Regions from separate parts of the Homo sapiens genome. Here region 1 is linked to region 2. The links come from fine-mapping of genetic effects on gene expression. A gene starts in region 2. The other region holds a variant in brackets. All regions are shown on one strand. Distances are from middle to middle.

Region 1 (2,921 bases), 38 kb before region 2:
TGTTGTTGTTGTTGTTTTCTTTTCTTTTTTATTTTTGAGTCAGGGTCTTTCTCTGTCACCCAGGCTGCAGTGCAGTGGCATGATAATTGCTCACTGCAGCCTCAAACTCCTGGGCTCAAGGGATCCTCTCACCTCTTACTTTAGCCTCCTGAGAAGTTGCAACTATAGGTGCACACCACTACCCCTGGTTAATTATTTTTTTTGTAGAGACAGGGTCTTGCAATGTTCCCCAGGCTTGCTTCCTGTGCTTTTTACTTTACATTATATGTAATTAAATATTCTTTTAAAGCCTAATTTTTAATATTCTGTACAATATTCCATTGTAAGTGGCCGGGTGCAGTGGCTCACGCCTGTAATCTCAGCACTTTGGGAGGCGGAGGTGGGTGGATTACCTGAGACTAGAAGTTCAAGACCAGCCTGGCTAACATGGTGAAACCCCATCTGTACTAAAAATACAAAAACCAGCTGGGCATGGTGGTGGCTGCCTGTAATCCCAGCTACTTGGGAGGCTGAGCAGGAGAAACGCTTGAACCCGGGAGGCAGAGGTTGCAGTGAGCCAAGAGCGTGCCATTGCACTCTAGCATGGGCCGCAGCGGGAGACTCTATCTCAAAAAAAAAAAAAAAAAAAAAAATTCCACTGTAAGTGTACCATAGTGTACTTAAGCATTCTTCTATAGTCAGAAAGATTTTGCTATTATAAATAACACTGAGATAAAAATAATAGATATCACTTACATATAGTATTTACATTGTGCCAGGCATTGGGTTAAGCACTTAACATATAATAATCCACTGAATCTTCATAATAACTTAGTGAAATCAGTGCTATTGTTATCCTCATTTTAGACACCAAGTCACAGAGACTTGCCTGAGATTACACTGCTAATGAGTAGTGGAGCTGGGACTTAAACCCAAGAAATTTGGCTCCAGAATCTATGCTCTTAACTATCTTTATACTTAAATTTTTTTCCTAATTTATTTTTTCTTACAAAACATTATTTCAAGTTTTAATAAAGTCTAGAAACACATTGTCAACTTGCTTCTCAGAAAGATTGTACTAACTTGTGCTGCCACCAGCAATATGCTAGTTTCACCACCTCCTTGCCAACGTCAAGGGTGAGCTCTTAAGAAATATTTTCTAATTTGATAAATTAAAAATGTATATAGAATTAAATGAGATAGCTCTAATTATAAAGGTGAACATTTTTCACATATACCGTTGTCATTTATAGAGAACCTAGGGCTTTTAGTTGGACACAATTTTAGCGTGCTAAATTATGTCTTGTATTTCTTTACTTTCCTAAATGCTTTGACATTTTTCATCTCATTTGATCCTCACATTATCCCTGGAGAGGGGAGATGATTCTCTGCTCACACAGTGCGTTTGCAGTGGTATCTTACAAGTGAGACATCGTATAAGTTCAGTGGTTAAAAGATTCTAGACTCAGACAAGTGTTATCTGGAATTCTATCTTGACTATTTCCTGGGCAAGTTATTCAACTTCTGAAAACTTAATTTCCTCATTCATTAAGTGGGACTACTACTTACTTCATAGGGTTGTTGTGAAGCATAAGTGCT[G/C]GACAGATGGTAACTTTAATTATTGCTCTTAAATCCTGTCACTGTTGGATCCCATAAGAATGTTGTGACAGAACTCCAGTTAATTCATAAATATTTGCCAATTGCCGGCTCTTTTTACTTTAAGGTATTGCATCAGGTAGAGCAAAGAGAAGAAATTAGAGGTTGGGCACTCCGAATTTTTGTTGTTACCAGTCCTTAAAATAACTTAGATAGGACAGGCTACAGGAGGCAAATATTGGATAAAGACCCAGGCCTGGAATTTGGCTCCTGTCAGAAATAAGACGTGAATTGGGTCACAGTGGTCACAACCATTTAAAGCTAAGAAATATTGACATGCCAAATTGCTTTTTATTTTCCCACTGTGTGCTGGCTTAATGGTGCAGTATCTCACTCTTAGATTTTGGGTTTGAGGACACGGCTCTGAGAAACATGGAACCCATGCGTTACTAACCTGTGTATGAAGCAGAACTCAACACAAGAGCTTAGTACTAGCTCCGATAAAGGCGAGCATGAACGAGGAAGGGAGGGAATATTAAGAGCGGTAGCATGGAGTGAGAGTAGAATTACTATGCCCATCTGTCCCGCTCCACAGAGTTGTCTGTGTAGGTCTAGAACCGTTCTGTTTGCTTGTTGTTAGTATACTTCTGTCTCTGTTTAAGCCACTCATTGGTAAACGTGTTTTGGCTTCCCAAAAATGGTCTTCTTCCTTCAAATGGAATTAAATAAATGCCAACAAGAATTTCTTAAACGTTCTTCCATTAACCGTTGGCCATATGCAGAGCACTATTTTAGGAAGTGAGAAAAGACCCAAATGACAGAAAATCTGAGCATGAACTTCAGAGTCAGAAACTCAGTGCTTCTCCATGCATGTTTATAGCAGCACAGTTCACAATTGCAAAGATGTGGAAGCAACCTGTGTTCCCATTGACTAATGAGTAGATAAATAAAATGTGGTATGTATATACCATGGAATACTGCTAAGCCATCAAAAGGAACGAAATAACGTCTTTTGCAGCAACTTGGATGGAGCCAGAGGCCATTATTCTAAGTGAAGTAACATAAAAGTGGAAAACCAAAAACCGTATGTTCTCATATATAAGTGAGAGCTAAGCTATGAGTACGCAAAGGCATACAGAGTGGTACTTTAGAGACTCAGAATGGGGAGAGTGGGGAGGGCCTAGGGATAAAAAAAAACAAAAACAAAACTATACATTAGGCACAATGTATACTACTTGGGTGATGGGTGCACTAAAATCTCAGAATTCACCACTATACAATTCGTGTAACAAAAAACCACTTGTACCCCAAAAGCTATTGAAATAAAAAAATACAAAAAATATAAA
Region 2 (2,848 bases):
TCCTCAGAGAGGCCTGTCCTGACTGTCCTACCCAAAGTGGCTTCCTCCCTATCTTGTCTTCTCTTGTTTTTGTTACCACACTTTTTAATTTATATTTCTTTATTAACTGAAACAATTAATATAAAAGAAATAGAGATGGGATCTCGCTATCTTGACCAGGCTGGTCTCCAGCTCCTGGGCTCAAGCAATCCTCCCATCTTGGCCTCCCAAAGTGCTGGGATTACAGGCGTGAGCCACCTTGCCCTGTCTTCCTCAAGTTATCTTTCTAAAATGGAAGCTTGATCACATTTCTCCCATTGCCTACAAAATAAAGGTTGAGCTTCCAGGTCTTATTTACCATGCATACCATATGTTTTATTATCTACAGATCTGCATTCTGTCACTATTCTTCCTAATCTCCTTCTAGCCTAATCAAAACACAAGGAAACAAAAAACTAGAAAAACAAAACAAAAAGCTTTATGGATCACACTTTTTATTGGACACGATACTCTTCCTTTTTGCAATGTCCTCCCACTAGGCTCCCAACCAGGCCCTCCTGAAAAATTCTCTCTCAAAACTTTACTCTGTGCATGCACATACTTCTGTTGGGACACCTATTTTATACATACCATCTCAGGCAGAAAATTCCCAAACTGAAATGTACAGGCAACGTACTTTTATTCTACGGAGTTAACAAATTTTTAATTCCTTGTCTATGAGGTTGAAAATCCCAATTAAATTTCTGGTCTTCCCCTCTTGCTCCTGGGTTGTGGTTAAATTCTTGGGGAGTCTTCACAGTACCTAAGTTTTGGAGAAGATGTAGGCACCCGCCCTCATCCCTCCTTCAGATTTTGGCATCCTCTTCCTAGTATCTGTGTGTTGTTTGCATATTTCTGTATCGTTTTGCTTTTACAGAGCCACACTGAAGCTTGAGAATCTGAGGCTTTCTGTAGCTTCCCCGTACACAGAATCATTCCCTCTTTGGAGCCTTGCTACCTACTCCAGACTACTTGGAATGCAGACATTTGCTCATTACTCTGGGACCCAGGGGTATTCCCTTTCTCTTAATCTTATTAATATTTCACTTCAGAAGCATTTCCTGTGTTGTGAAATTTTTCTCAGAGGCTTCTTTAATTGGTTTAGATTTTTAATGGATTTAGTCACATAAAAGCCAATGACTCCCAAATTCTTAAGTCCTGTCCCATCCCAATACCTGAGGCAGGGAGAAAAATATAAATGACCATCGTTCCTAAATCTGATAGCTCAGTGGATACACCCGGGGAGCTTTTAAAATTAAGAGACACTCCCAAGCACAACTCTACAGCATCAGAATTTGTTTTCTTGACGATCACAGACGATCAAGGCAGAATTCTTCCATCAGTGGTGGGCGTGGGGCGGGACTCCACTCGGTCTTTCTGTCCTCTAAGTCTTCTAATTTTTTTCCCAGTAATCCGCCCTCCCGTTCTCCTTCTTTGGCCCATCCCTCTTCTAGTCTTTCCCTGCTCCCCTGCACCAATCTTTCTGCGTCCCGTCCCCTCCCATTCCCCTACCCCACCCCACCCCACCCCACCCCACGTTTCCCGCCTCCCGCGCCTCTCCCGCTTTCCGCCCCCTCGCGTCTCCTCCCCTCCCACCCGCACCTCCACCCCCTGCCTCTCTCCTGCCCGCCCCGCCCCCTCTTCCGCTCTACGTCCCTCCTCACCCATGCGCACTCTCTTCAACCCGCTGCTTCCGGCGGCCTAGGCTTACGTTTACTTTGCGCCGGAAAGAGAACCTGTAAACGCTCTCGGAATTATGGCGGCGGTGGATATCCGAGGTATACTGTATTGCTATATTTTGTCTCTTGATTGTCTGTGGACCAGTTTGGGATGTTATAGCTCGCGGTTTCAAGGTTTAGGTTCCTTTGTGTGAAGTCTCAAGCTTTTTTGAGTGGTTTTTGTGGACAACCCAAGGCTGTGATCTAGCGAAACGTTGACGAGTTTTTTTTTTTTTCTGAGTTCTTGGAGCGTCTCTTGGAAGCGTCGGAGAGAAGGGGTTGGAAGAAGCTCTGGGTTTTGAGCTTTCAGAGCTGGAGTTTTGTTCTACACACGTATCTCTGCAACAACATTAGGGCTATTCTATTGGAGTGAAGGAATGGCGTTTAGGCAGAGAAGGGAATGGGGTAATAAGCCAACTTGATTTGATTCATCTCTTGGGACTTGGCATGGTGGCTGCCTAATTCTTTAGACCGCGCCACACGGGTCCCTGAGCATGAATCCCAGATATTTTCTTTTTTTTTGAGTCGATAATACTTTACATCGAACGTCCAGCAATTATTATGGGCAGGGGTCGTATTTTTTTCACAGCTGAACTGCAGAAGTACTCAAATATTGAATCAGTCAGTGAATAAATGTATGGAGATGTCACCCCTTAACTGCTGCTTGATCTTGGGGAGCATGTAGAGTTGTTTTTGTGTATATAGTACTTGATTTTTAAAGGGAGATGTTTGAGATGCCTTTTTTTAATATTAACTGGATTGGGGTCTAACACATTTATTACAAATATTCTCATTTATACTTATCTGGCGATCTGCAGCACTTCTGGATCATGATTTTACATACGTGTCTTTCATTATTTATTTCATCACTTGCTGATGGTTAGAATGCTGTTAGAATGCTTGGGCTATGTCAACATGTTGCCTTGCTACAGAATAAAAAAGAGAAATATTTAGTTTATAAAATGTTTTACTTATAATTCAGATTGTTAGGATCATGGCAAAGACTCTAAAATAAGAGTGTGTTTGGTGTGTTAAAGGAACAGCAAGGAGGTCAGTGTGGCTGGAGGGTAGTGAGAGAGGATGTGGGAAGGAGATGAAGTCAGAAAGGTGTT

The links. PIP is the estimated chance that this variant, and not a neighbour inherited with it, causes the effect.
Region 1: its variant is fine-mapped to the expression of MED6 in whole blood (TOPMed, PIP above 0.99).

The regions. Positions count from the first base shown.
Region 1 is chr14:70,637,169-70,640,089 of GRCh38, reverse strand. All of the region lies in intron 1 of TTC9-DT (TTC9 divergent transcript), which reads left to right. Among named protein-coding and RNA genes, the nearest start is that of TTC9-DT, 2.7 kb to the left of the region's middle. The variant G/C (reference allele first, on the strand shown) is at 1,579.
Region 2 is chr14:70,599,564-70,602,411 of GRCh38, reverse strand. MED6 (mediator complex subunit 6) reads left to right here and starts at 1,757. Exons shown (of 8, transcript NM_005466.4): 1 at 1,757-1,796. The coding sequence starts at 1,775. RefSeq lists an enhancer at 1,056-2,255.